Homo sapiens: one gene and its partners. The protein of the gene in region 1 interacts with the protein of each later gene in a pairwise test. Each region holds a gene or a part of one and is shown on either strand. Other genes may lie near its edges. The genes, in order: TSPAN8, MEP1B, STX2 and TIMM23.

What was found.
Region 2: the proteins of TSPAN8 (region 1) and MEP1B interact in binary tests that used the Homo sapiens proteins (3 or more experiments, as listed by UniProt).
Region 3: the proteins of TSPAN8 (region 1) and STX2 interact in binary tests that used the Homo sapiens proteins (3 or more experiments, as listed by UniProt).
Region 4: the proteins of TSPAN8 (region 1) and TIMM23 interact in binary tests that used the Homo sapiens proteins (3 or more experiments, as listed by UniProt).

The regions. Positions count from the first base shown.
Region 1 is NC_000012.12:71,155,000-71,161,946, forward strand, and holds the start of TSPAN8 (tetraspanin-8), read right to left. Parts: upstream 3,001-6,947; 5' UTR 2,931-3,000; intron 2,811-2,930; exon of another isoform or gene 2,789-2,810; 5' UTR 2,680-2,788; coding exon 2,620-2,679; intron 1-2,619. UniProt on the Homo sapiens protein: Structural component of specialized membrane microdomains known as tetraspanin-enriched microdomains (TERMs), which act as platforms for receptor clustering and signaling.
Region 2 is NC_000018.10:32,207,031-32,214,058, reverse strand, and holds part of MEP1B (meprin A subunit beta isoform 1 precursor), read right to left. Parts: intron 6,808-7,028; coding exon 6,589-6,807; intron 5,941-6,588; coding exon 5,788-5,940; intron 3,559-5,787; coding exon 3,343-3,558; intron 944-3,342; coding exon 500-943; intron 1-499. UniProt on the Homo sapiens protein: Membrane metallopeptidase that sheds many membrane-bound proteins. Exhibits a strong preference for acidic amino acids at the P1' position. Known substrates include: FGF19, VGFA, IL1B, IL18, procollagen I and III, E-cadherin, KLK7, gastrin, ADAM10, tenascin-C.
Region 3 is NC_000012.12:130,801,230-130,808,257, reverse strand, and holds part of STX2 (syntaxin-2), read left to right. Parts: intron 1-1,167; coding exon 1,168-1,276; intron 1,277-3,714; coding exon of another isoform or gene 3,715-3,758; exon of another isoform or gene 3,759-4,165; coding exon of another isoform or gene 4,166-4,301; exon of another isoform or gene 4,302-4,605; intron 4,606-6,769; coding exon 6,770-6,843; intron 6,844-6,967; coding exon 6,968-7,028.
Region 4 is NC_000010.11:45,982,471-45,989,498, forward strand, and holds part of TIMM23 (mitochondrial import inner membrane translocase subunit Tim23), read left to right. Parts: intron 1-52; coding exon 53-146; intron 147-375; coding exon 376-460; intron 461-2,137; exon of another isoform or gene 2,138-2,341; intron 2,342-2,912; coding exon 2,913-2,971; intron 2,972-6,266; coding exon 6,267-6,377; intron 6,378-7,028. UniProt on the Homo sapiens protein: Essential component of the TIM23 complex, a complex that mediates the translocation of transit peptide-containing proteins across the mitochondrial inner membrane.

The DNA of each region.
Region 1 (6,947 bases):
ATAAGGATACTTAAAGAAATACTAACTTATCACTGTTGGATAATATTAGTAACTTAACTCATCACTTGCAATCTGGTAAGTAAAGAGTGAGAAAGAAGTATTTTATGCCACTTAAAAAATATTAAAAATGGGATACCCAGGTAATTAAACAGTAAATGAGAAGTTTCTCCTTATAGAAAGTGTTCCAGCTAATAAAGAAAGAAAAGTTGATGAAACTAGAATATCATCACTTTGAACCACTTAATGAACTAATGATGGATTTTGGCACTTGACCATCAATGGCTACGAACGTCACAAAAGAGGGACACAATCAAACCTCCAGTGCCTCCTCATGAAAGAATACAAAATCACTTATGATTGTCGTGTGAAAAAAAAAGGACCTTGAATTGTATCAGGCTGCACCACAGGTATGCAAACAGCAAAATCCAGACTGTGGGCAATGTGATAAAACAAACAACACACACCAGTGCATAAAATTTCAGTAGGGAGAAAAAGAGATGTTGACTGAGGGAGAATCAACAGATTAAAATAGACATGAAACATATATTAACCAACCACACAGTGTGGACCTTATTTAGATCCTGATTCTAACAGGAACATTTATGAGGTAATCGGAAATTTCAGCCCTGAATGGGCTCAAATTTGACAGTTTGATTAAAATTGTCAAATCAATTTGACAATTGATTTAAAAAATTCTTATTAAATTTTTAAAGTGTAATAATGATATTGTGGTAACATTTTTTTTTTTCTGAGATGGAATCTCACTCTGTCGCCCAGGCTGGAGTGCAGTGGTGCGAGCTCGGCTCACTGCAACCTCCCCCTGCCAGGTTCAAGCAATTCTCCTGCCTCAGCCTCCCAAGTAGCTGGGACTACAGGGGCGTGCCACCATGCCCGGCTAATTTTTCATATTTTTAGTAGAGGCAGGGTTTCACCATGCTGGCCAGGCTGGTCTCAAACTCCTGACCTTGTGATCCACCCATCTCGGTCTCCCAAAGTGCTGGGATTACAGGCGTGAGCCACTGCGCCTGGTTGTGGTTACATTTTTTCAAGAATTATTATGTTTCAGAGATATATACTAAAATGCTTACAGACAAAATTATATATCTGAGATGTGCTTCAAAATAATATGGGGTGGGGGAAGTGAATACAGTAAAAATGGAGAAAGATTGGCCATCTTTCTGTGGCCACCTGGGCTGGCCAATGGAGTTGATTACCTATCCTATCTTCTTTAGTGAATATTCAAAGTTCTCCAAAAAAAAAAAAAAAAAACAAACAAAAAAAAAACTAGAAACAAAACAAAACCAAAGAATACAGGTCTTTCTTTTTTTGTATAACCTGCTCCCAATGTTTAATCAATTTAAGTATCTCAAGGGAAGAAATGTATCAGAACTAACTAAAAAACTGGCATATATGTAGCATGAGCTACATTAAATATTTGCAAAAGCAGCCCATTTTTTTAACCTAAAAACAGCAGCCCATTTTTTTTGCCTTCTTTATTTTACTTTTTTAAATATTTACTTACTTATTTAAAAGTCACCAATATATCCATTTGTACTCATTAGCACTACTGATCATTGAATGGAAAATCAGTCTATACAATAAAGCTGTATTCATGTAGTTAAGTTTAATTAAGTTCATCATTATTTTAATAGAACAGAAATATAGCAACACATAGGTATGAGATGTCTGTTTACTAAAGATCAGGTACAAAAACAAAACCAGAGTTCTTTCATCCTTGGAGTGGATAAGGTAGCTTTTAATCCAGTATACAAAATACTTTTTTCATTTAAATACTTTGTGCTATTTCCACTGATTGACATTTAAACAATCTTTAATTGTACCATATATGCTAAAAATGATAAGGTCAATGTCCCAACATCCCAGCCTGCTCTTTTCATACCTTGTTTTTCCATTATCTATTGATAGATATCAGTTATCAATTTGTTGGTTATGTCTATGTCAATGGACTTTCAAGAGAAACATAACAAATTGCTAAAATACAAATCCTGTCAATTAAAAGGTAGGGTGATGACACATCAAAATACTGACTTTAAAATGCCAATACATATATATATCCACGGTCTTAGTTTGATTTTCTTATGATTTAGGAATTTTATCATTTCCCCCTCAAGTTTTTCATGACCCATTTTTTTTGTCTTTGAGGCTCTGAAAATGATCTTTATTGTCCCACACCCTGCGATTCACCTGTTCAAACCCAGAAGTGAAGGGCGGGAATCAGGACCCGGGCTCCGGATGGAATCAGACCATGTTTTTACCACAGAGTCCTTAAATTAGGGAGGCCTGCTTGATATACAACTAAGGAAAATTGTCCTTTAATTAAGGGGCATTTGTGTTCCTCTGTGATTTTTTTTTGCAGCAATATGAAAACATTTATGAAATGTTTATCCTCACATTCTGAAGTGCACTTTTTTGAGTCCTTGGCTCATTTTCAATTACTGAAATAACCAAAGAAAGAACAAACAAATCCAAACAAGTACATGGAAAATACATTTTCCCCCTTCTCTTATTTCTCTAGTGTACAGTCTGTTCTTGTTTATGATATTTATATCAAGATCCCCTTTCTTGCATAAAATTGATAATTAAAAGGAAAACACTTACCCAGAACAAGAAGTTGAAGGTAAACATAGAATATTTTATACAGGCACTCACACCTGCCATTTCGGAAAAGGATTAGGAATCCAGATGCCGTGAATTTAACTATTCGTTACAGGCTTGTCCTGCAATATGCTCTGGAGCAACTTGCCTGCAGAGATTTCTGTATCCACGGCTTCAGAGCAGAAAGAGAAAGCAAAGAAGTAGAGGGAGGAATAAAAAGTTATTAAACTGGATAAAAAAATTAACCCACACATTTAAATATCGCAAAGGCTATTAACCCACACATTTAAATATCTCAAAGGCTATTAACTCACACATTTAAATATCGCAAAGGCTATCTCCAGGCAAGTATGTTCCTTTGCTTGTCATAGCTCCTGGGGCACTGGGCCAGGATATTTATGATCCTTTCTCAAAAACTGCCTCCTCTAAAGTAAACAGATATCAAGTGAAGGGAATGGCACTGGATCAGGCAAGAGAATGGCACAGTGCTACTAAGTTCTTGGCTTTCAGAAACCACTGCCTGACTTCCCCGCCCTCCATTTCAACTATGGGGAAATAAGGTTGTTTTGTTCTGAGTTAAATGGACATTGTATCTCTACTCATTTTTGCATTGCATTTTCTCAATACTACAAAATTCCTTCTAAATGCAATAAAATGCATTTAGAAATCTGCAAAATATCAAAGCTTAGACATAGCAACCTGTTATCATTAAACCTAGAATAGTAAAATAACCATTACATGTATCTGCCCTCCAAAACATCTAAATTTATTTCAAAAGAATTCCAGAGCTGCCGTAAATACACCACAGAAATTGCAGAGGGAGAGGCAGCCTTGCCTATCATGATAAGACCATTTGCTTTTTATCTTTATTTCTTTATGATACAAAGGGAAAGAAATCATAAAGTGGCACTGACTGCAACATTGTTTTCATTTTATAATGCGTAGTCATTCTGATAGCTTGGTTTGTTTTTAAGGTGGACACTGTAATTTCCTTCCTCTGATAAATTGTATCTAGCAACAGCTGTTCTCCACCAACTCAGTTTCTGGATTCCAGGTCCTCCCGGACAAAAAAATTCAAAATGGGAAGGTGGTCATGGATCAGTGACCATAGATTTTACTATTTGTTTCTAGTGCTAATAGAAGGCAGCTGTCTCAGGTAAAGGCAAAATGCTCCGACATCATCAGGGAGGTGTGGACTGCTTTGTGTAAACAGCCTGGGTCATGTTAGTTTCCACATCCTGCCTCTCAAAGGGAGTTCTTCTCCCCCTAAATAAAAGAACCCTCTACTTTAAAAGGTTGTTGAGAAAATTATTCTTTAGAATCTTTGCTAAGTTTTACACGATAAGCAAGCATGAACTCCTTACAAAAGAAAAATATTATTTCTAATTTTCACTGGCATACAATGTTTTTGAAACAATTCTACTCCCTGACTACAAATACAATATATTTTAATGCATTATCAACAATAATATATAGCGTTAAAGGCCAAATTTAGGATTAATTCCAAAAATAATGGCTTAATATATAAATCATCACTAAAATTGTTTGTGTTCTCTTTCCTACTAGAAAATGGATAGTTTCACAACCTTCTATTGAGATATTTTGTATATAGAATAATCCAAGGCTGAAAGAATAATTTCAGATTGAATGAAAACCAAAATTGATTCATAGTCCCAGAAATGATTATTTATCAGAGGCTAAAATTAAAAAAAAATTACAGATTTAAATGCTGCTTTGTTGAAAAGAATGTATTGAATACTACCAAATTTTAGTTTGAAATAGATATTTTGGTGGATGCTGAACATCCTTAAAAAGAATACTGTGTAGTCTTTAGTTGAATCACTCTTGAACTCTGTAACACAAAAATCAATGGATGTGTTTGTACAGGAGAATGACTGTGTAATAGAACCCCTAGTCTAATTCAAAACCTATATGAAACAGTTCACTCCTGGAAATTCCTATTCCTATTAATGTTATAATCACACAACACTCTCCCAGGCTGAATTTGTACAGATATTTTGTATTTCTCTTTCTTTCCATCCAATCACTCTTACTGGTCTGTGTAGCTCCTAAATTACTGTCAAAACTATTTCTTCCATCTCATCCTTTTGCATTTCATTATTCAGTCCTTTATCATTTCTTACTTGAGCTGTGTCAATAGAATGAGAATTAATTTCCCTGGCAGTTTCTCCCAGTTCCTCTCTGCCTTAGCACTTTAAAATTCTTTTTGAGAAATACTTATTGATTAGGTAATGATAATGATGAAAACCCAATCTAAGGATATTTTCCTTTTACCTACAAGATAAAGTTCAGATTCCTTAAAGTAGCATTTACAGCACACAGCAAACAAGTCCTCCACCCACTTTCCAGAATTTTGTCCCTCCCCTTTCTTCCTAGGCAGCCTCCACTTCTAGGCTCCATAACCACAGAATTATTTCCCAGGCCTAGAACACACCTTTGGATTTTATGCCTTGTTCCTTCTGCCTGGAATATCCTTTCCCACCTTCTCTATTGCAACATCCCTGTGGAGCCTTCCCTTCCTCATCCTCTGCCCCCACTCTGGGCAGATTTACTTGCTTCTCAGTCCTCAAGTCCATTATTATTTGAACAGACCTTAAATCTACAATTGCCACTATATCACATTTATTTGTGTCTCTCCCCCACATTTGATTCTATATGCCTGAAAAGCAGAAATCTTACCCTATTCACCTCTGTACCTACAGTAGCTGGCATTAGAGCTACAGAGATTTGCAATGGCAGCCAAGCTCCTCAGAAAGTTCAACTAGTGATTTCCTCATTAGGTTCTCTAGGGAACTACCAATATGCTACCTCTGCCTTTAAAAAATCTATTAGGTCAAGAAAAACAGTTTATTAATTTCAGGACTTGTCAGAGCCTTCAACTTTCTAATATTCAAGGAGGTGATATATAGCAATTCTGAAATGAATATAATCTCAGAACATATTTTTGAATGACATATTCAGGACTGGTGTTACAGAACACACATACGCACTTACAGAAGCACTGTTCTAGACAAACTCTCACTCTTACACCTGAGAAAAGAGCAGCATAGGCAGATTGAGTAGCCCAAGTTCACAAAACTGGTTAGATCTCCTTCTAGAAACAAGGTCACAGGATTATCAGATCAGTATTCTGTCTACTGGCGTCAACAATCTCTTGAGTTCTGTAGTATGAGAATGAGTCATTTACTCATTACTCATTTAACGTGTCTTAGATATTGAGAAATTTTCATATAACAGATATTTTAACAGTGGTGGGAGGTTGCAGGGGTTGGAGATTGTCAGTAATAAATCTTAGACCCTGTGAAAGACCGGGCCAGTAAGGAAAGAAATGGAGAGTGAAATATTATAAGAAGAAATGACAATCGAGGGAAAGAACAGAGGGAAAGTCTAAGTAAATTTAGATAAAGTTTTTCTAATGTTGCCATCATGCCAATTACTATTCATTGCAGCAAATGCACAGAGTAAGGCAGGATAATGATTCCAATTTGATTAATTGTGAAAAGTCTCCATGAGGCAGTCATCAGTGAACTAGATTTTGATAGCAGTATGGGAACCCATGCAGGGGAAAGAAAGAGAGAGAGAGATTCCTTATGCTCAGGGCAGAGGAAAGTGCATGAGTAGTACCATCAAATACCCCACAGAAAATATGGCATTTTCTCTAAGTCATCAGGCAAACCAGGCCTACGTTTGGGACTTGGACCAGAAATTAAGCATAGATAGTTCATATTTTCATCATGATATCATCTTCTCCTCCATAAGATAATATTCAAAAATTTATTCAACTGATGTATTGAATCCTTACCATATTCCAGGAATGAGACTAAGTGCTGGAAACATAGTAATTTATGAAACAAGATAAAAATCCCTGCCTTCCTAGGCCTTACACCATGGTGAAAAGGTAACTTCTTTGCCTTTTTGTTTCCAACATCTCGTTACCCGATATATTTGTCCATGGAATAGACAGTAAAAAAGCAATTCATGTGTGGTAGAGAAAAGATTATTTTTTTCTCTTGTCTTTTATACTCTCCCATTATCACTGTCCCTCTATACTATTTGTTTTTCATGACGTTGTTAATAATCAATTCATGTTCTCAAAGGCTAACAGCAGCAATAAAAACATAATGTTGAGATTTCTCTTCCTTATGACTGTACTGAGGGGTGTGTATGTAAGGACATGAGATCATACACTCTGAACAATTTGAGTGAAGAGATTCTGGTGCTTTTAGCATGTCTCATTTTGAAAAACCTTTTTTATTTTTGGAAAGTTGGAGTTCTCACTTAGGGGTTTTATGGTCTCTTTTACAGGAGCA
Region 2 (7,028 bases), on another chromosome or scaffold:
GAGTTAGAAGAACCCAACATCTGAGGGCCTCTCCACCGCAGGCCTTTCCACAGCTTCCACACTTGACCTGTACTAATTCTCATAGCAAATCTGTGGAATGATTACTACAGCCCTGGCTTTACAGCTGAGGACACTGGGGCCCTAAGAGATTATTTGCTCAAGATTACATAACTAATGAGAAGCAAACTTTGGACTTGAACTCAGGCATGTCAGACTCTAAAACCAACACTTCTTGCACAGAAGTGGAAATTTGAGAAGGGCCATCAGTTCTTAGGAATACAGTCAGCATTTGTTGGAGTCCTTGCTGACATTTGTGATGAGCTCCTGTCTGACAGACTCAGTCCACAATTCTTGAAACCTTTCCCCTAAATATCTGTTCTTAAGATTTGGGGCTCAAAATTCCCTAGGTAACTAACTGTGCAATCCCTCATTCCCAAAATTATCAGTCCCTCCTAGAGCAATGATTGTTTATTAGCAATAAAGAAAATGAGTTACGAACCGGTGGTCATAAATGGGTCTGTAGTTATACTCCGCTGATTGGACATACGCTGTCGAATGTCAGGATTTTGATCCAAAAGTGTCATTGTGGCTTGTTGCCAAGGACATGGCCACTGTAATTGATCATCATTGGCTCCAGAGATCAAGTGGAAATATATCCCTGCATTAGTCACATGGGCTAGATTTAAGTAAATCTGAAAGGCATAACCTTTAGAAGAGTAAAATGGAGGGCTATACAGAGTTCCATTTGGGCTGCCAATGAACTGTGTGAAATTCCTTATATGCCAGATATGATGAGGGCACCGTGTTTCCGAAAGATTGATGTCATCAATAGACAGACCACCCAGTGATGCACCAGAGCCTTTGCGTCCTTCAAACACCACTCTAAACTTCTTGGTCACTTTCAATGTTACATGATAAAGTTGCCAGCTCCCAGTGGGTATTTCTGCAAAAGAGTCATTATTATTTCAAAGACAAAGAAGTTCAAATCATGTACATGTCAACATTAGATTTCTAGCCTTCTTAGACAAAGGGTCATCCAAAACCGATTTATTTCTACAGGTCAGAAGTATGGTTTTGCCAAAGCTCCAGCCTAGAATTATTTACTTCAAGGTGCTTCTGTGGGGTCACACTGTTCTCTGGAATAGCTGAACGTTTGTCTAGCTGTTTCTCAAATAGATCACCCTTTCCTAGAGATCGGTGAGTAAATAACAACATCTAGCTCATGAGTACTTCATGCCCTACCTATGAGTTACCTGCCATTCTCCATTAAAGGGCCAGCAAACCCAACACTTGTAACACTTCTACTCAAGATTCCTGTGATACTCAGGCAAAGCCTTCTTTAATATATTTATAGTTTGATTGGAATACTTCCCTCACATACAAAGTCTTCAATCAACTTTTTGGTAATATTAAACAAAATCCACCAAACCCTAGAAAGCCTACATCCTGCAATCTACTCTTTAGATCACTTCCCAGTAACTCAGCATTGTAAGTATTTATCTGATATTTGGTACCACCTCCTTTCTTTCCAACCTGTACTTCCTCCCCAACTATTAGCCCATACCCCTCGCTAGCAGCACATAATATGCCATTCTGTCTGATTTTCTTATATCACATACTCAAATAAGAAGCAGTATACTAAATAATCTGCAGAGGCCCCCAGATGAACAACAGCTGAGGAATTCATGTCAAACTAGTGGTTAACACAAAGTCTTAAAACAAAAATATGTTGGCACTTAATGTGAAACACAGTTACTTGAAAATAAGCTAGACATACCCAAATGACAGAAAATAAGCAAGCTTCTTAAGTGCCTTTTTGTGTTATTGTGTATCAATGACGAACCCACAGATTGCTAATAGGAAGGACCCCCCTTCCAGTCCTGGACAATTATATATATTACAGATACATTATATCAATATTTGTATTAATTTAGATATTAATACATAAAATATAATATTTATAGTAACATATATGGCTTATATATAAGGCTTTTATATATGTAATATATAATATATTATATATAATTATTCTTTATATATTTTACATTGTTACATAAATAATATATATGTATAATGTGTGTATATGCTTAGTGAGATTAAGAACCTTACTGCTTACAGGTGTTCACAAAGAAAAATATCGCCTGTATTTCAGATTGTTTCTCATTGTTGAAAACAGGAGGAAAATGGCATACTATATTGCATAATATGGATCCAATTGTGGAACAAATTGAATTACTCAATTCATTCAAGTCATGAGATGATTAGGTGGAATAGACAGTAATATATTTGCCAGCCCACAGCCCCTCCCTTTCTCAGTCACCCCCTTAACCATCTACTTGCATAGGTGGTCAACATGGCTCTCCTCTCTGACACATTATTGGTATGAAGGGTGGGTACCCATTTCCCACTCAGGAATTGCTCCAGAAGCTGTGTTTAACTTAAGACATAAGTATCCCAGTTCTTCACTGGGATTTATTTTTTAAGCTTTATATTAGAGGAAGAGTCCTTTTTCCAGACTGATAGCAAATTTGGTCAAATGTAAGCTGGGAAGTGAAACAACCGAAGTACCAGTCTTATAAAGACAGCCATTCTGAGATAAAACAAGAGGTCCCCAGCAATGTTCAGAGACAGATCTATTAATAATTCCCCCTCAAGCCAGTGTCTCCCTCATCTGTCCCACAGGCTGTAACTAACATTTAGCCAGGAGCCCATCCTATTTTGCCTAAGCTAGTTCACATTGTATTTTTATGTATTTTATTTTTATTTTATTTTATTTTATTTATTTTTTCAGAGATGGAGTCTTGCTCTGTCGCGCAGGCTGGAGTGCAGTGGCATGATCTCGGCTCAACTGCCACCCCCGCCTCCCGGGTTCAAGCAATTCTCCTGCCTCAGCTTCCCAAGTAGCTGGGACTATAGGCGTGTGCCACCACTCCCAGCTAATTTATGTATTTTTTCAGTAGAGACAAGGTTTCACTATATGTTGACCAGTCTGGTCTCAAACTCGTGACCTCAGGTGATCCGACCGCCTCGGCCTCCCAAAGTGCTGGGATTACAGGTGTGAGCCACTGCGCCCAGCCTTGTATTTTTATTATTTGCCAAGAACTGACCTCCATAGTGCCAGAGACTGATCTACAGTTTCTTAAGTGAGTGTTACATAACAGAGCACTCAGAAAGAATCTTCATTCTAGCTTCCTTTCCACAGCTTAAAACAAGAATCTAGTTCTTAGTTGAAGTATAGTGACTCAGTAGCCCCTGCCCTATTGTAAATTGTTGCATTAACTAAAGAAAAGACCTAAGATTGCCTCATTTTAAATCCAGACAATAAGGATGTTGACATTGTACCTTTTATTTCTTCCACAAGGGTTAAATTGCCATCCACATTGTCTGCAGAATACTCCCTGATATAGATGTTCAGTTGATCACTTTCACTGCCACTGTTATATAAGTAAAATTGCAGGCACTGAAATCCTCTTTTAGGGTACAGCGTTCTACTTTCCAGCACTGCTGTGGCCCCCACATTTACAGAGCTGCTATCGAAATGCATGAAGAAACCAGAACCTGTTAAAGAAAAGCAGAATTGAGAGAAAAACAGATACTGGGTATAGGAATGTGTGTTTGTTAATGGTGGTGCTAGATTCTTTACGCGAGGCATAAGTAACATCCATATATAAATCGCCAGGGAGAAATGACAGAAGCCTAAGCTACATATCTGGCACTTGCAAAAGCTAGCAGATTGACATAACAGTATAAAACTCAAACCTCTCTATTATTTATAAAACGTTTACTTACAATAGTAGTTTTCCGTGGGCACTAATCCTTGCTTATCTTCATTTGTTATGAGCTATAAAGATAAAGCAAGTTTAAGTATCAAATGCTAACTTTTTAAAAATCCACTGTAAGGCTGCAGGTCAAGCCCAAACAGCAGGGCTAAAAGGTAGATTCTACATGGGACACCTTTCAAGTGTCCAAAACCCTGGTCCAGCTCCAAGTGGAAAGAGCTACCATTGGACAAAGATGCTACAGAGGGTTGTTCCCCCGCTGAGAATATGAAAAAGGAAAATGGAAATTAAGTCAAAACGAGGGTTTGAAACTTGGGTGGGTAGAGAGTTGTAGCATCTGTGTCTCCCAAGGGTAATTCAACGTGAACTTCTAGGTCTTTCTGGAAAGGTGAACACACACTGCGGACAGAGGTGAGAGTCCAGCCAGGAAACCAGGGCCTTGGCTGACCTGCCCGCCCCCCTTTTTTTTTTAAACACTTTCTAACTTCTTTGGCTTCAAACTGTCACAAAAAAAGAAGGAAGAAAAAAAGAAAAGGAAGAAAGAAATTCAACTTTCAGAAGATATTGTTAACTACAGCAACCATCTGGGGAGATTCACATTTTAATATTTTTAAAATGATACTTGTAATGAAAAAATTGAGAATAACTGAACCTGATAATTTCAGAGGCACCTCCCACTTATCTGCTTTCATTATCTGCAATACTTAACCTTCTAAGCCATCTCTAAAGAAGGCACAGCTAGTAATTCTGGTTTGAGTGTATATATATTTTCTTTCATTTTTTTTTTTTTTTTGAGACAACGTCTTACTCTGTTGTCCAGGCTGATACGCAATGGTATGATCTCAGCTCACTACAACCTCTGCCCCCCGGGTTCAAGTGATTCTCCTGCCTCAGTCACCCAACTAGCTGGGACTACAGACATGCACCACCACACCCAGCTAATTTTTGCATTTTTAGTAGAGACAGGGTTTCACCATGTTGGCCCAGCTGGTCTCAAACTCCCAACCTCAGGTAATCCGCCCACCTTGGCCTCCCAAAGGCCGGGGATTACAGGCATGAGCCACTGCACCCGGCCCAATTTTCTTTACCTTATTTCAAGTATTCGCTTAGTTTCCACTATATGCAGGGAATTGTGTTGGGCATTTAAATATGGTTCTAGGAGCAGGCGATTTATGAAAGAGACAACATTAGGGAACCTTTCCCTTACCACAGAAATTAGTTTTCAAAAACAGAAAAAAGTGAGAGCTACCTGGTCTGGATTCTTCTTCTTTTCCCCCTCCCTCCCTATCTACTTTCCTCTGGTCTGAGTAGGACCACTATCCACTATCCAAATATGCATTTAAAAAGAAAAATAAAAGGAAAAGCACCTTTTTGCCATTAGAGGCCTCCAATTCCTGCCTAGATCATCTGAGCTATTAAGCACTGGCCCTAAGTTCTGAAGTCTAGTTTTACATATTTGATGCCAGAATAAGCAAATACGTAAAAATTTGGTCCTTGTAGCCAAATAACTACTTAAGGCAAAACAAAATGAAAATGGAAAAGGATACGCATCTGAAGAAAATTAAATAAACTCTGCTTTTTAGATATTTTTGTAACAGGAGCATATAATCACATCCAGCTACAGTTCTGAAACAATAATTCGCAGCCTAGTGCTGTCCATTGGAAAGAGTCTCTTGTATTCTGCAAACTTCTAGGAAACAATAGTACTGCCCCTGAGATAAGAGGCCTTGCAGGAGGCCCAGTCTGGTACACTCTCCTATGGGAACGCACTGGTAGAGGCATCACAGAGCCCAGCTCTGACTTGTAGAAAGAAAAATAAACTCAGGAAGGAAAAGCAAAGAAATTAACAATGTCTTTATCAGGTGCAAGGCCTACTTCTCAGTAGTAACCTAATGAATAATCATTAATAATTCTGATAGAAATTAGAGATAAAATCCCATTCTTTCATAGAGAAGTATGTGGCTGTAGCCACTGAGTATACAGTCTAGGAATATCTCACTCCTGTTACCTTGGCACTGGCCCATGTTGGAGTGATCACTCTCTGGCCCCCTGGGAACCTGTGAAACCCGTTGCCAGTCAGCATTATCTCCTGAACTTTGGATCATGCCACACACATTTTCCAGTTCAAAACTGCACGAGTCCATAAAACTCAAGGAAGAGGCTACAAAAAGCAAAAAACAATTATTGACACTCATACAACATGATAATCTAAGTAACAAAAACTGAACTTATCACAGTATTAGAAATGCCAGGTTGGTATTACAGGGAACACCTAGCTGATTCTGGATGATGGTGGCTTAAAGATCCCTCTTTATTTGCAGAACCCCTACAAAGAAGGTAATGAATTCTGTAGATCTGAATAAGCTCCCTGCCTGAAGTCTTTTTTAAAAAAAATTTTCTAATTTGTAGAAACCTGAGTCTATACTCCCCTAGTTATTCGAATCATTAAGCCACAATCCAGATTATTTGATCCCATTCATATTACAACTAGACATATCATTTTGGCTAAAAGGAAGTGTGAGTATCAATCTGACCGAGGTTTGAATTAGTAACAGCTTTAAAAACTTGCCTGAGGCATATTCCTACAGGACCCAATTTGTTTTTAGATCTCAACACCAGACGTGGTGAAAAGAAAAATGCTGCTTCCAAGTTGTAGATTGAGATCTGAGTGCTATTCTGTTTATTTCCTGAATATCAAATCTCTATAATCGCAGAAACCCCACCAATGCTTGACAAAATGGCACAGACCATCATTTTTTCCTACATAACAGCGGAAAATATAAGTCATTTCAAAGAACCTGTCACATACAGCAGTTATACAGTTGATTCAACTTTAGGAGATCAGAGTCACTGAAATCCATTCGTTGGCCGATCACATCCTCAAAGTCTGAGATTCTTGTGACAATTGTCGGCTCTGTTCCATTTTGGAATGCAGTTTTACTGTAGTGCATTACTGAAGTGTAATCATAGGGAACATTCAGGGAATCTGATATATCGTCACTATAGGTGTTAAAATTGTGCTCTCTGCCTAAAGGATAAATAAAAAATCTTTACTTGATGTTCACAAAATTCAGCTTATCTTACTCCAAATACTGCTCACTTAGAAATGGAGAATATAATAAACTCAAGCAATTTTTGCTACAACTAACAACAGTTTCATTATTCCCATCTTACAATATAATATTCAAGCTTAGAACTGTGATACCAGCAGTCACACTGAACATATCTAAGGTTCTATTGCAGCCCATA
Region 3 (7,028 bases), about 60 Mb from region 1:
TCAGGGCTCACTGCGTTCACATTTCACATGTGGGAAGAGAGGAGTGGGGGTCGATTCTGCACTCCTCCCGTGCCCAGATCCGCCTCTTACGTGGGCCAGTGTGAGCCTGAGGTGAGGGAGGAGCTATACATGCATTTCTCAGGGTGGGCCGAGGGTGACTTCTAGTCTTGTCTTTGTCCTGTACCTGTGAAGGTAAGCGGCTAATGTACATTGTCAGGGTGAGATTCTGCAGAACTCTGTTTTAGAGTTAGTTTTTGGTGGGGGGGATATGGATTCTGAAAGATTCTGGGACCTACGAGGAATTTCCTTGTGAGCACTTTGTGCAGGAGGCTGCTGGGGCGATGTGCGGCCTTCTGTCACTGCAGCCATCTGTTTGAGAAGAGGAGGGAGGGCAGTGTTTTGCATGACTCAGTTCCCAAGCTTAACTGTCCCTTTGGGATAGTGAGTGTGAGGTCCTGCGATTTTATTTTCCTTTCACAGTATTTATAGAAATCTCTTTATTGTGAAGAAAAATCTATTCGGTCCATCAACAGAGTTCTATTCCAAAGAGTAGGGAATTATCCAAATGATTTTAGTGTTTGTGGTAAGGCCGCCACGTTTTAGTGGTTTGTGGTACTGCCCAGAGGAAGACAGAGCCCTGAGGCCTCGAGGGCACGAGGCGATGAAGCACGCGGGCTCTGGGGTCCGCCTGCCTGGGTCCCCTCATGGGCACAAGGCGATGAAGCACGCAGGCTCTGGGGTCCGCCTGCCTGGGTCCCCTCATGGGCACAAGGCGATGAAGCACGCGGGCTCTGGGGTCCGCTTGCCTGGGTCCCCTCATGGGCACAAGGCGATGAAGCACGCGGGCTCTGGGGTCCACCTGCCTGGGTCCCAGTGCTGATCTGTGTTTATCAGAAAAGCCTGTGACCTTGGGCTAATGACCTCAAAGTCATGGTTTTCTTTAAGTAGGGTTGTGACCGGCATAGTAGGGGTCTTGTAAAAATTAGGTAAGATCATGCATGCAAAGTTCTTAGCACAGATGCTGCCATGGGGACTTTGCCATTGTCATTTTCCATTTGCAGGAGCAGAATAACATGTAGTTTGAGTTTCCAAAATGCATGTCTTGCATGTCACTTTCAGTAGAAGGCATGGCCCTCAGATACGAATGTAGTTTTCCTGTGTTGTTAGCATTCGGTGCTGTCTCGGAAGTTTGTGGAAGCCATGGCGGAGTACAATGAGGCACAGACTCTGTTTCGGGAGCGGAGCAAAGGCCGCATCCAGCGCCAGCTGGAGATAAGTGAGTAATGGAGACTCCGTCTTTGTTAAAATCATGTTTTTCTCCCTTAAGGTCTCACTTCAAATGACTTTAACTTCAGAAAAGGAAATCCATGTCTATTTTCACCAATAGTGTAAAACCCAAAGACCACTCGTAGCTTCCTATGCCGTGAGTCAGGCAAACCTGTTCTTCCTGTCTTCAGGAAGTCCTAAGCGGTGGGGTTTACCTTGCTCATTGCTGTTGCTTTTAGAGTTTCAGGGAGATTGGGAGAGTGCTCAGTCATTTCCTCTTTGAGTGTTTCTGTGTCCTCAGTCCCGCCCTGCCCTGGTTCGGGGGCATCTTCATGGCTCCTCACATCTCTCCTTGTCTGTGAGCAGAGGCAGCGGCCCTATTGCCCCAGACTCTTTTCAGGGGTGTCTATGGGGACAGTTGGCTGTGGCAGTGGAGATGGCGCCTTCTTCGGGGACAGACGGGTCTGTTTCAGGGATAAAGGTTGGTCAGGTTTGTAGACTCCCCATTGTGAAAGATTGGGGTTCCCAAGCTCGGGTCCTTCAGCTGTGACACAAACCCACTGTGAGGACGTCCCACTGCAGCTGCTCTGCCTCTCCCCATGAGACTGGGGGCCGTGGACAGCTGCTCATGAGCCTCAGGTTGCCTGCTGTGCTGTGAGTAGGAAATCCCTTTGTCCCTGACCTGGGGCCTTGGACCTTCTGCCGGCCCCCACGGAGCCCTGGCAGGCCAGCGTGTCAGCTCGCAGGTCAGATGAAGCCTCAGGCCCATCCCGGCTCCCAACGCCGCACATCCCCCTCAGAGAATGTTGTCATATGCCCGCCAGGCCGCTTGACCTTGTCCCACAGCTCAGCGAGGCTCCTCATGTTTTAGATACTCTTTTCCAGTGTGTTTGGTTTTGGTCAGTTTCTCTTGCTTGTCTGATCTGCCTTTAACCTCCTCTGGTGTATGTTTCATCGGAGACACTGGTTTCTGTTGCTAGTTCTGCTGGGTGTTTTACATGTCTGCTGTGTTGCTCCCCACTGTACAACTGGGACGCACTTGTAGTAACTTGAACCGTCTTTGTCTGCCAACTCCAGTGTCCTGTCTGCTCTGGTTGGTTGATTTCCTTCCTTTCTGTGGCTTGTGTTTTCCTGCTTCTTTGCGAGCCTGGTAAGTTTCGAGTGTGTGCCAGACATTGTGAACGTTACTTTGTTGGGTGCTGAGTATTTCTGTATTTTGAGTATTTTTGTAAATCTCCTTGGGCTTTGTTTTAGAATGTAGTTAAATCACATGAGCATGGTTTAGCCTTTGGGATCTTGCATTTAGAGGGAGCAGAGCAGCTTTATTTGAGGGCCTGTCATTCCTCACTCCTGAGGTAAGACCCTTCTGAGCACCTGCTCTGATGGCCGTGAACCTCATGGCACCCTCGTCTGCCTGGCAGCGTGTTCCCTCTGGCATGCTGGTCAGCACTCCAGTGAGCATGCGGGGTCTGTGCAGCTCGCTCTCTGCATCTCTCTCATCTCTCATACTCCATCTTGCAAATCCAGTTGCCTTGGTCTCCCCTGAGCTCTGTGCCTTTGCCTTAGGACTTCCCCTGGGCTCCACCTGGGCCCTTTCTGCTCTGTGGCTGACACGAGAGTTCCGTCTGAGGGCAGCAGCAGGCTCACCTGGCTTGTTTCCATCTGTTGGGAATCAGTGTGTGGCCTGATGCTCAGTGTCTTGGAAATCGTTTTGTAGATTTTGGTGGGTTTGTGGTTATTTCAAGTGGCAGGGAAAATACGGTCCCTGTTGCTCCATCCTGGCAGAAATGCTCAATCATGATGTCGACTAGACTGCTTTTCTATGAAAAAGTTTTTACAAACCACTTTGACTTCAGGGATCTGTTAGTACTTTTTAAAGTGAAAGTCATCATTACAGGCAGCCGGTTGCACTGTGAGGATTTATGCTCTGGGACTCTGTGGTGAGCGCTTTTCTAGCACAGAGTTCCCCAGCCTGGGCTTGAAGGCCCCGCACCATCTCTCCTGCAGGTCCATCCTGTCTTCACTCCCCATGTGAATCCGGTGGCGTGATCAGATCGCCTAAGTCTCTTCTCTCTTTCCCACATTATTCTATCTCAGCCCACAGAATTCATTTCCAGTTTCTTCTCTTGCAATCATACTCTATCGAATGCAGTACTGTTTGTGAAAGTGTCTTATAAGCAATGAAGTATCATATACGTGTTGGGAGTTTTTTTTAGTAATTCCTTTAAGTCTGTTAAATTCTAAACCCTCCATGTGGCTATTCCGAAGTGAGCAGGTCTATGCAAACTCACCCCCAAAGGCTGAGCGAGCTGAGACGCCAAAGAAAGAGGCTAACAAATCCAGTTTCTCGAAGGAAACATTGGCTAGGGACGTACGAACAGAAGCCCCCGAGAGACAGAGACGGTGGACCCCACAGCCGCCTGCCCTCAGAAAGTGTTCTTTATACAGCAGGCTTTCAGGGTAGAACGTGTGCAGCCGGCCCTGTCTTCTGACTTGCTTGACAACACTTGGGACCACTGGTCAGGCTGGATGAGCATCTTGATGAGAGGTTGCCTGTGCCGGAGGCATCGTCTTCAGACCTCATTGCAGAACAGCTTGGCATGCACGAGTCGAGCATCGGTCATCACGGTGGTTTTGCTTCAGGATGGCGTCACTCTGGCCACACAGCGGGCTGTCTTCATACAGTGGTCTTCTCCAAATCCTTGCACCTAAAACCATTTTGTCCCCTTTCTTTCTTCCTTCCGTCAGCCCTGTCATCAGGCAGGTTTCTTACCTTGTATCACAGGATATCTTTTCCTGTGCTGTATGCTTTGTTTCTTCAAATGGCAAGTGAGTTTCTTCTTGGACCAGGGCATGTTACATAGGTCCACAGTGCTTTCTCTGGAATGGTTGGGGCTGTATGTGTTTCAGAGTTCAGAATTTTTCAGATTTTAGGAAGATAGTACAATGTATAAGAGGTGTATTATGTAATCCCCAGGTGGGGTCTAGGACTGCACCCTGTAATCAGGCACATTCACACAGCTCTCCAGTGAAATGTGAGTATTCACAGTAAGGGGGAGGAGTTAAGATTATAAATAGCCATGACTCAGTTTAGGTCAGATTTTGCCGCTCATTGAATTTTGACATCGAGCTTAAGGAAAACCCAGTTTTCATAATGTTGTGGATTTCAGCATTCTGGATAAGGAATTACGAATGTATACTGCATTTCACATTCTGTAACCCCAGGCTGTTTCTTAGACTTAGCAGTTAGCCGGTGGGAAGACCTTTGTGAACGTGAGACATGAACTGTAACTTTTAGTTTGTTTTTTTTTTTTTTTTTTTTTTTGAGAGAGAGCCTCACGCTGTCACCCAGGCTGGAGTGCAGTGTTGTGATAACCACTTATTGTGGCCTTGAACTCCTGGATCCAAGGGATCCTCCCACCTCAGCCTCTCGAGTAGCTGGGACCACAGAAGCACACCACCATACCTGGCTAATTTTATTTTTTGTAGAGACGAGGTTTTCACTATGTTGCCCAAGCTGAAATTTCTAGTTTTGATGATTATATTTTACATTATTTAGAACAAGTTTCATGTTTTTAAAAAAGCAAAGCAAAACTCAGAGAATCTCCTTATTGAGCTATTTTGAATAGATTTTTAAGTTTTATTTTATTTTTTGTAGAGATAGGGTCTTGCTGTGTTGCCCAGGCTAGTCTCAAACTCCTAGCCTCAAGCAATCCTTCCACCTTGGTCTCCCAAAGCACTGGGATTATACATGTAAACCACCATGTGTGCTCTCAAATAGATTTTTAAATGATTGAGAATTACCTCCCAAAAAATAGTGTAAGTAAACAAATTTTGCAATTTACTAACTTTAAAACTTTTTTCATTAAATGACATCTCAACAACTTTATTGAGAAGTAAATCTCTTAATATGTGAATGATATTTGGAGCATACAATTAATTCAGTGGTTTTTGGTGTATTTCCACACACAATCAATTTAAAACACTTTTATCAACCCAAAAAGAAACTTCACACCCACCACCAGTCATTCCCCATTTCCTCTCCTAGCCCAAGACAACTGCATTCTACTTTTTACTCCTGTACATTTTCCCATTTTGGATGTTTCATATAAATGGAATTATACACTATGTGTTCTGTGACTGACTTCTTTCCTGTAACACAGTTTTTCCAAGGTTTCACCATGGGGTGGGCAGGGTGTGGTGGCTCACATGTATACTAATCCCAGCGTGTTGGTTGGGAAGCCAAGGTGGAAGGATCGCTTGAGGCCAGGAGTTCAAGACCAGCTTGACAACATAGCAAAACCCCATCTCTGTAAAAAAAAATAAAAATAAACCAGGCATGGGTGTGTGCCTATAATCACAGTCACTTGGGAGGCTGGAGCAGGAGGATTGCTTGAGCCTAGGAGGTCAAAGCGGCAGTGAGCTGAGATTGCACCACTACACTCCAGTCTGGGTGACAGAGTGAGACCGTATCTTTGTTAAAAAAATAAAAAGGGCTGGGTACGGTGGCTCACACCTGCAATCCGAGCACTTTGGGAGGCTGAGGTGGGCAGATCACTTGAGGTCAGGAGTTCGAGACCAGCCTGGCCAAAATGGTGAAACCCCACCTCTACTAAAAATACAAAAATTAGCCGGGCGTGGTGACGCACGCGTGTAGTCCCCACCACTCAGGGGTCAGAGGCATGAGAATTGCTTGAACCCGGGAGGAAGAGGTTGCAGTGAGCTGCGACGGTGCCCCTGCACTCCAGGCTGGGCGACAGAGTGAGACCCTGTCTCAAAAAACAAAGCGACAAAAACCAAAAGCGTCCTTTGTTTTTGTGGCTGAGTCGTATGTCAGTGTGCAGCTAGACCGCAGTTAGCTCCTTCAGGCATCGGGGGACGGACGTTTGCGTTGTTTCCACTTTTTGGCAATTATGAATAATGCTGCTTATTAGATGACATTTGAATTATGACATTTATTCATTTACTTTTGTCTTCTGTGGCACAAACTATGAAAAATAGTAATTAACAATTAGGTTTCCAAAACCTGTGTACATGTTTCTTCGAAGTCATTACACATTTAACTCAAAAGGAAAGCATTAACTTCCAAACATGGAAAGTGTTCAGGCATCTGACTCTCATTACGTGGACTTTATTGATCCTCATTTAATACATGCTACATTCAGCTCAACCCCCTTTTACATGAGGCGGAGTTAAACTCTTAGGGAAACCAGTGTGCCGAGACATTGTTTACCGATTTCCTTTCTGCAGTTGTTTCTCACTAATATTAAAATGAAATTTTATTGTTTATAACATTTACAAAGTTTCTCGGAGTATTTTTATTTCTTCTTGCTCCTCAATCTTAGGTTCACTTCTCATTGTCAATATCTGCTTAAGAAAAGGTTAAAAAAATTACTGAAAAATGCTAACAACTATGATTGTAGTTGCTAACTTATGGTTGCAAATGGCTTTGTTTTTAAATTGTGCTGCATTCTGAGTGGGGCTGTGGTTGCGGGTCTTTCAGCTGGGAGAACCACCACAGACGACGAGCTAGAAGAGATGCTGGAGAGCGGGAAGCCATCCATCTTCACTTCCGACGTGAGTGGGGGTGCGGCCCTGTGGCTCCATGTCCTCTTCTGTAGACAGAGCTTTTTAAAAACCCTTTAACTTCCAAACCCATCATAAGTTTATTAATATTATCTTTTATTTTTGTTTTTCCAAGATTATATCAGATTCACAAATTACTAGACAAGCTCTCAATGAAATCGAGTCACGTCACAAGG
Region 4 (7,028 bases), on another chromosome or scaffold:
AGATTTGTGTCTTGAGGGACACTCAGCTTGGTTTTCATTATTATCCTTTTAGGATACAGATGAGTTTATTTTACCTACCGGAGCTAATAAAACCCGGGGCAGATTTGAGCTGGCCTTCTTTACGATTGGAGGATGTTGCATGACAGGTGAGTGTTACATACTTTTTTCTCAAGAGTGCTCAGTTCAAGTAGTTGAGGGTGCGTAAAATCAAAAGCAATTAGAATGTTGGTTTCAGGGTTTTTTTTTTAATATTTACATTTGTCTTTTTCTATTAAATAAAAATGAAAAAGAATCAGAAGTGTAGTTATGCAGATTTGAGTTTGTTTTTTTAATATAAAGCTGTCTTTATCTGGGTGAATTGTTATGATTTACCAGGGGCTGCGTTTGGTGCAATGAATGGTCTTCGGCTAGGATTGAAGGAAACCCAGAACATGGCCTGGTCCAAACCAAGAAATGTACAGTAAGTCTCTTGTAACCATCTGATGTAGTGATACTTGAATATTAAGCTCTGTTGTATTGGTTTGATGAGTACAACCTTGAGATTACAGATGGTTAGCATAGTTATGTGCTTTTTTGTCTTTGTTTTTTAATCTTAATCAAAATAAAAGCAACTAAGGAATCAGATTACTGACTCTAAGCTTTTAAAAAGGAGTGATTTTTTTAATCAGTGTCCCTCAGTCAGCTAGTGCTATGCCAGCCTGACTTCTCAGCTGCACCTGTTACATTCTCCAACCCTATGTGACTTGCTTTTCAAATTGTTGAGTTGCTAATGGGAATTTTGGATTGTTTGGGGGCATGCAGATCCATAGGAAATGGTAATGAAGAATAAGCAGCTCATGAGAGTGATGGCTCAAGCTGCCATCATTTAACTTGAAGTTCTTACTGTCTTGACTTTATGTTTCCGAAATGATGAGCCAGATACATTTTAAATAAAATTTTTAGAATTAGAGTTAATTCCAAAAGGATAAGACACAGTTTTCTGTTAGAACTTGAAGTTACAGAGAAGGGAAAGTACAGTTAAAAGGATCGGAAAGTATGTTTTCACCCAACTTAAGAAGTAAACATGGCCAGTCCCTCTTGATATTCCTTAAACAATATGTTTAGTTTTGCCCATTTTTATGCTTCATGTAAGTGGAATCATGAGTATGTATTCTTCGATGGCTACTGTTTTGTTTTAGGACACTTTAAACTCCATCTTCCTTTCATATTGTTCAGCCAGCAGATGGCACCAGATGTGCTAGAATTAGACCATGGGAAACTGGAAGGCCTGTTAAATTGTGTGGTTTTTTGAGAGACAGGGCCTTGCTGTGTTGCCTGAGCTGGAGTGCAATGGCGCCATCACAGCTCACTGTAGCCTTGACCTCCTGGGCTCAAGTGATCCTCCCACCTCAGCCTCCCGAGTAGCTGGGACTACAGGCACATGCCACCATGCCCAGTTAATTTTTTAATTTTTTGTAGAGACGGGGTCTCACTGTATTGCTCAGGCTGTTCTCAAACTCCTGAGCTCAGGTGATCCTCTTGCCTCAGCCTTCCAAACTGCTGGGATTACAGATGTGAGCCACTGCGCCTAGCCCTGTTAAGTTTTTTATATTCCTGTTACTGTGTGGATCTCTGTCCATGCTTTACCAGCCTAGATCCTTCAATATTTTTATTACTTGTCCCTCGCTTCAATAATATTTTTAAGTTTTTGTATTATGGGGAATTTTGAATATATAAAAGTAGACAAAATACATAGCATAGTGAACACATGAACCATAACGCATCCTCAACAACCATCAACCATGGCCAGTTCTATCCCATTTCCTTCTCCTCTCCCATCTTATTTTGAGACAAAAACCCCAATATCATATTAAATACAAATTTGGAAGTAGATCTCCTAGAAAAGACAACTTGCTTCCTTTCTTAAAACAAGTTATTAAAATGCTTGTTAAAAATGAAAAAATGATGGCTGAACTTAAAATATGTTAGTAAATATGTAACATAATTAGAAACAATATACTTCTGTTTGTAAACATTACTGATTTTTTAAAACAATCTTTTAGAAAATACAAATTTTTGTTTCTGTAGAACATTAATTGAGTCGTTTAATAATTAAACTGAATGAGTTCCTTCACTCTTTGTTACTGTATTTCCATAATTTCCAGCAGTAGTCAGCTGTCTGGACAGAACCATTCCTGGGATCATGTTACACTGCTGGGAGAAGAATGTCTTCTCTTCATCCAGTTGCGTCCATCACTGTTCTGGTGGTGTCTGGCACTGGTGCAAGGCAGAACTGTGCTTCCTTGAGAGTGTGCTGAGCATTCACCTTGGCTGCTTGGTTCTAGTCTAGGAGCAGACACAGGGTGCTTTCCCCATGTATTCTAGTTAGATGGCTGATTCCTTCTCTTTAATTCTACTTTATATTCTGTACTTTGATATTCTTTACTTTATATTCTGTACTTTGATATTCTTTACTTTGATTATCTTTAACATTCTAAGCATATGTTCCCCTCCCAAAAAGAACCTTTTAGAAGCTAGCTCGCCATAGTTAACAGTGGCATTTTTTACATAGATTAGTTTCTGTAAACCTCTGTAAGATACATTCCAGGCTGTCATTCAAAGCCTTATATATATTTAATGTGTATTCATTATATTATACATTTAATAATAAGAGTTTTCCTTATTATTATTATTAAGGACTTATATAAAAGTCCTTAAGACTTTTGCCTAAAGTTTTGAAAGTTTTAACCTAATTTTCACTTATGTAGAGTAAAAACCATCCTTATTGAAATCGGAGATATTAAGATGTATTTTAGAATTTAAAAAACTTTGCGCCCTGGGTCTAGACATGTTAAATAGCCATTATTGTTTTTAAAGGTTACTAGAGAAATAATGATTCTAAATACAGATTCTTTCTCTTTCTGCCCTGATAGGATTTTGAATATGGTGACTAGGCAAGGGGCACTTTGGGCTAATACTCTAGGTTCTCTGGGTAAGTAGAGATCTCATTTGATAATAAATTGTTAAAGAAAGAATGCACAAATATCATGAACAATTTGATCAACCCATATTCTGGTCCTAGGATATGAGACAATTATGTTTAAACCCATTCCAATGCATAATGTAGATACTACTTAGGGAAAGACCATGAACTAACTTATGAAATAATCTCAGGTGCTAATACCGTTCTGAATACCATTGCTGAATTTTTAAAATCTTTTGGACACTGCACACTCTCCTTTCCAAGCACAACACCCAATAAAATCATGTTTAAATGAAATCCAGGTAATTTAGGTCCAAAGTAAAGAGCTTTGTATGTTAGGCAAGGTTCAAGGTCCTGTAGTGATACATGATAAATTAATCCAGCCCTCTTGCTATGTTTTCTTAATAGCCGGTTCATTAGTCTGTTTACCTGAGTAGATTTCAGGCACCTAATTGCCACAATTGGAATAGGTTCCTTGTAGATAATGAAAACGTTTGCAGTTCTAGGCAAAAGGTAACTTAGTAGTGCTTAGTCAGAGCCTTATGCTTTCATACCATATTGTTTATGAATGATTGATCACTTACAATAGATCTCTTATGGCTTATGTCCTGACATCCAAAATTTTCCTACTGTATGAACTTAGTTGAAAATCTCAATTTAAATTGTGGCAGATTAAGGAGGGGAAGACATAGAAAACTCATTGAAAACATAGAAAAAGCGTTTGTTATGGCAGGGTAAGGTCCTGCCTTGTCACAGAATTTGGAAGCAGTACATCTTCACACTGTAAAGCTAGTTTTCACACTTTGGATCCTAAGAGATGGCTGCTTTCATATGTTGCTGATGTCTGCATTCCTCCCACCCTCCTACAGAGTCACCCCGCTCTGTTTCTTTTAATTGCTTGTATACCTAGAGTAGTCAGCTGTCCTTGTCTGCGTAGGACTGTCAGAGAAAAGTCCAAGAAACTATGTTCCAATAATCACCCCCCGCCCACCCCGCCCCACAGTCCTGGACAAACTAGAATGGCTGGTCACCCTCTGTGTACCCATTGTGGTATGATCAAGAAGGGTGTTCTGCTCGTGATCAGTTTCAGTTAAATAAGTTGAAGAGGAAGATGAGCTTTCATAGAAGTATAAAAATACTGCAGTAGAGGAGTTGTAAGGCTGAGCGCGGTGTATTGTTGCAAGGGGCAAGTGTAGCTATAATTTTGAGAAAGAGTTTAAAAGTTTAACATTCGTTCCAGATAGGAATCTGCAAGAGCATAGAAGGATGGCTTGGGGGAAGATACTTTAAAATGAAATGGTGCTAGTGTTATAATACGTGAGAATCAAACCTCACTTTTTTTTTAATCTATTTTTTCTTATACTAGAAATACGTGTGTGTGTGTGTGTGTGTATGTGTGTGTCTTTAATCTGAAGTATAGCAATTATGGGTAGCATATAAATGAAAATTTTAAATATTCTTCCTGAGACTTCCTAGCGGTACTTTCTAGAAATAGCTACTATTGATGTTTCTTCTGAATTCTTCCAGGCGTTTCTCTGCATAGCCAGTCAGTCGTGTACCATGTGCACATGTCCCTGATTTACTTATTAGTGAAAATGATTCTTCTGGTTTTTAAGTGACTGTATAGTATTCCATTATATGAAAAGTCCCTCTCTGGATCAATTCAGATGGTACAAATGCTCTTGATGGGCATTTTATTTGTTGCCAGGTGTTTGCTATTAGAAACTGTTCTAGTGATCATTCCATGTATATCTTTGGATAAATTTTTCTAAATATAATTGCCATACTGACTTTTGTGTTGAAAAAAAAAAAACAGTTTTTCCTCTGCTCTCACACTACAACAGTCAACATAGGATAGTTCTGTGACCAGTTATGTGGGAATATTTCCCCACATACCAAGTAATCTCTCTTGCAGTGGACACCAGTTGGGTGTCCACCTGTTTCACTTCTGCCTGGAGATAGCATTAGATCAGCAGGTTGAGCACTCTGTCCCACAAAACTGAGCCCCACTTTGGATACTTCTGATGCTGATAGCAAGCTCCAGGTTATTTTACCTGTGCTTCTGACCAACCAGCTTTGTCAGGGTTTCCCACAACCCACTCTTTGGGTTTGATTAATTTATTGGATTGGCTCACAGAACTCGAGGGAACACATACTTAACATTTGCGTATTTATTATAAAGATTTTTTTTTTTTTTTTTTTTTTTTTGAGACAGGGTCTTGCTCTGTCACCCATGCTAGAGTGCAGTGGAGCTCACTGCAACCTAGACTTCTGGGCTTAAGCAAGCCTCCCACCTCAGCCTTTCAAGGAGCTGGGACTACAGGCAACATGCACCACCATACCAACTAATTTTTTTTTAAATTTTTTTAGAGAAGGGGGTATCCCTATGTTGTTGCCCAAACTGGTCTCTGACTCCTGGGCTCATGTGATCTTCCCACCTCGGCCTCCCAAAGTGCTGGGATTACAGAAACTTTGTGAGCCACCACACCTGGCTGGATATTTTTAAAGGATACAAATAGCCCAGTCAAGGAATACATAAGGTGAGGCCTGGATGGGCCCTGAGTGCAGGAGCTTTCATTTCACTGGAGTTGGGGTGCACTAGCCTCCTGACACGTGGGTGAGTTCTTTCTCACTTTCCTGCAAGTCCCATGAGTTCAGCTGTCCAGAAAGTCCTCCGACCCCATCCACTTGGGCCTCATGTGGAAAATTGATTGGATAGGCATGACTGAAGCATGGACAACCTTATAGAACTGTGATTGGACAAAAAGGGCATGCTCTACTACTAATAGACTGGGCACAGAAACCCAGCAAGGCCTGCCTGCCCAGATTCTCCCTTGGCCTTTCTGTGCAGCATTTCTTCTTCCTGGGTATGGGGTACGATCTTTTCTGAAATGGGGGTCTTACAGCCTGCAATCAGACAAGGTAGGTCATAGAATTTCTTTATGGCCAGTTCCAAGACAGAAAGGTGTGGGGAAAGATTAGAGTCCTGCTGTGGGGAGAAAAGGGAGTAGGTGAAAGGAGGGCAGGAGAAGGTCAGAGAGAGAGATTCTGTTTCTGAGGCTGCTTCTGAGGCCTGAAGTGCCCCAGTAATACAACAAAAGACCTTCACCTTTGTCCCTCTGAAGCTGTTCCAAAGCTGATTCCAGAACCAAGGACAAATACCTTAACAAGTGATTGTTTTAGTCACTTAGGAAGGGCTATGGGAGTTATGAGCTAGGAACCATGGATGAAAACCAATATATGTATATCATAATATCACACTTTATCACTGTTTTGTCACTGAGCACTTCCATTTCCTCTTTAGCTTTGCTCTATAGTGCATTTGGTGTCATCATTGAGAAAACACGAGGTGCAGAAGATGACCTTAACACAGTAGCAGCTGGAACCATGACAGGCATGTTGTATAAATGTACAGGTGAGTACTGTTGAATGGGGAGCCATCTCTTAATACACTTGAAGTGCGCTTTTTAAAATTCATGGTTTTCAAGGAAATTACACTCTGTTGCAGTATAATCTAGTGTTCTAACTTTATGGTTATTTTGGTTTGGTTTGGTTTTTAATTGTGGTAAAATAAACATAAGATTTACCCATCTTAACCATTTTTAAGTATACAGTACATTAGTATTATAGTCACATGATTATATAACCAATCTCTGGAACTTTTTCATCTTGCAAAACTGATACTCTGTACCTATTAAGCCTCCCAATTTACCACTTCCTTAGCTCTTGATAATGTTACACTTTCTGTCTCTGAATTGGCTGCTTTAGGCACCTCATATAAGTAGAATCATACAATATTTGTCCTTTTTTGATTGGCTTATTTTACGTAGCATAATATCCTCAAGGTTCATCCATGTTGTTGCATGTGCCAGAATTCCCTTCCTTTTTAAAGCTAAATAATATTCATTCTGTGTATGTATACCACATTTTGCATGTGCGTTCTTTTATCAAGGAATATTTGGGTTGCTTCTACCTTTTGGCTATTGTGAATAATGCTGCTACGAATATGGATGTACAAATATCTCTTCAAGGTCCTTCTTTCTTTTTTTGGATATATGTGCAGAAG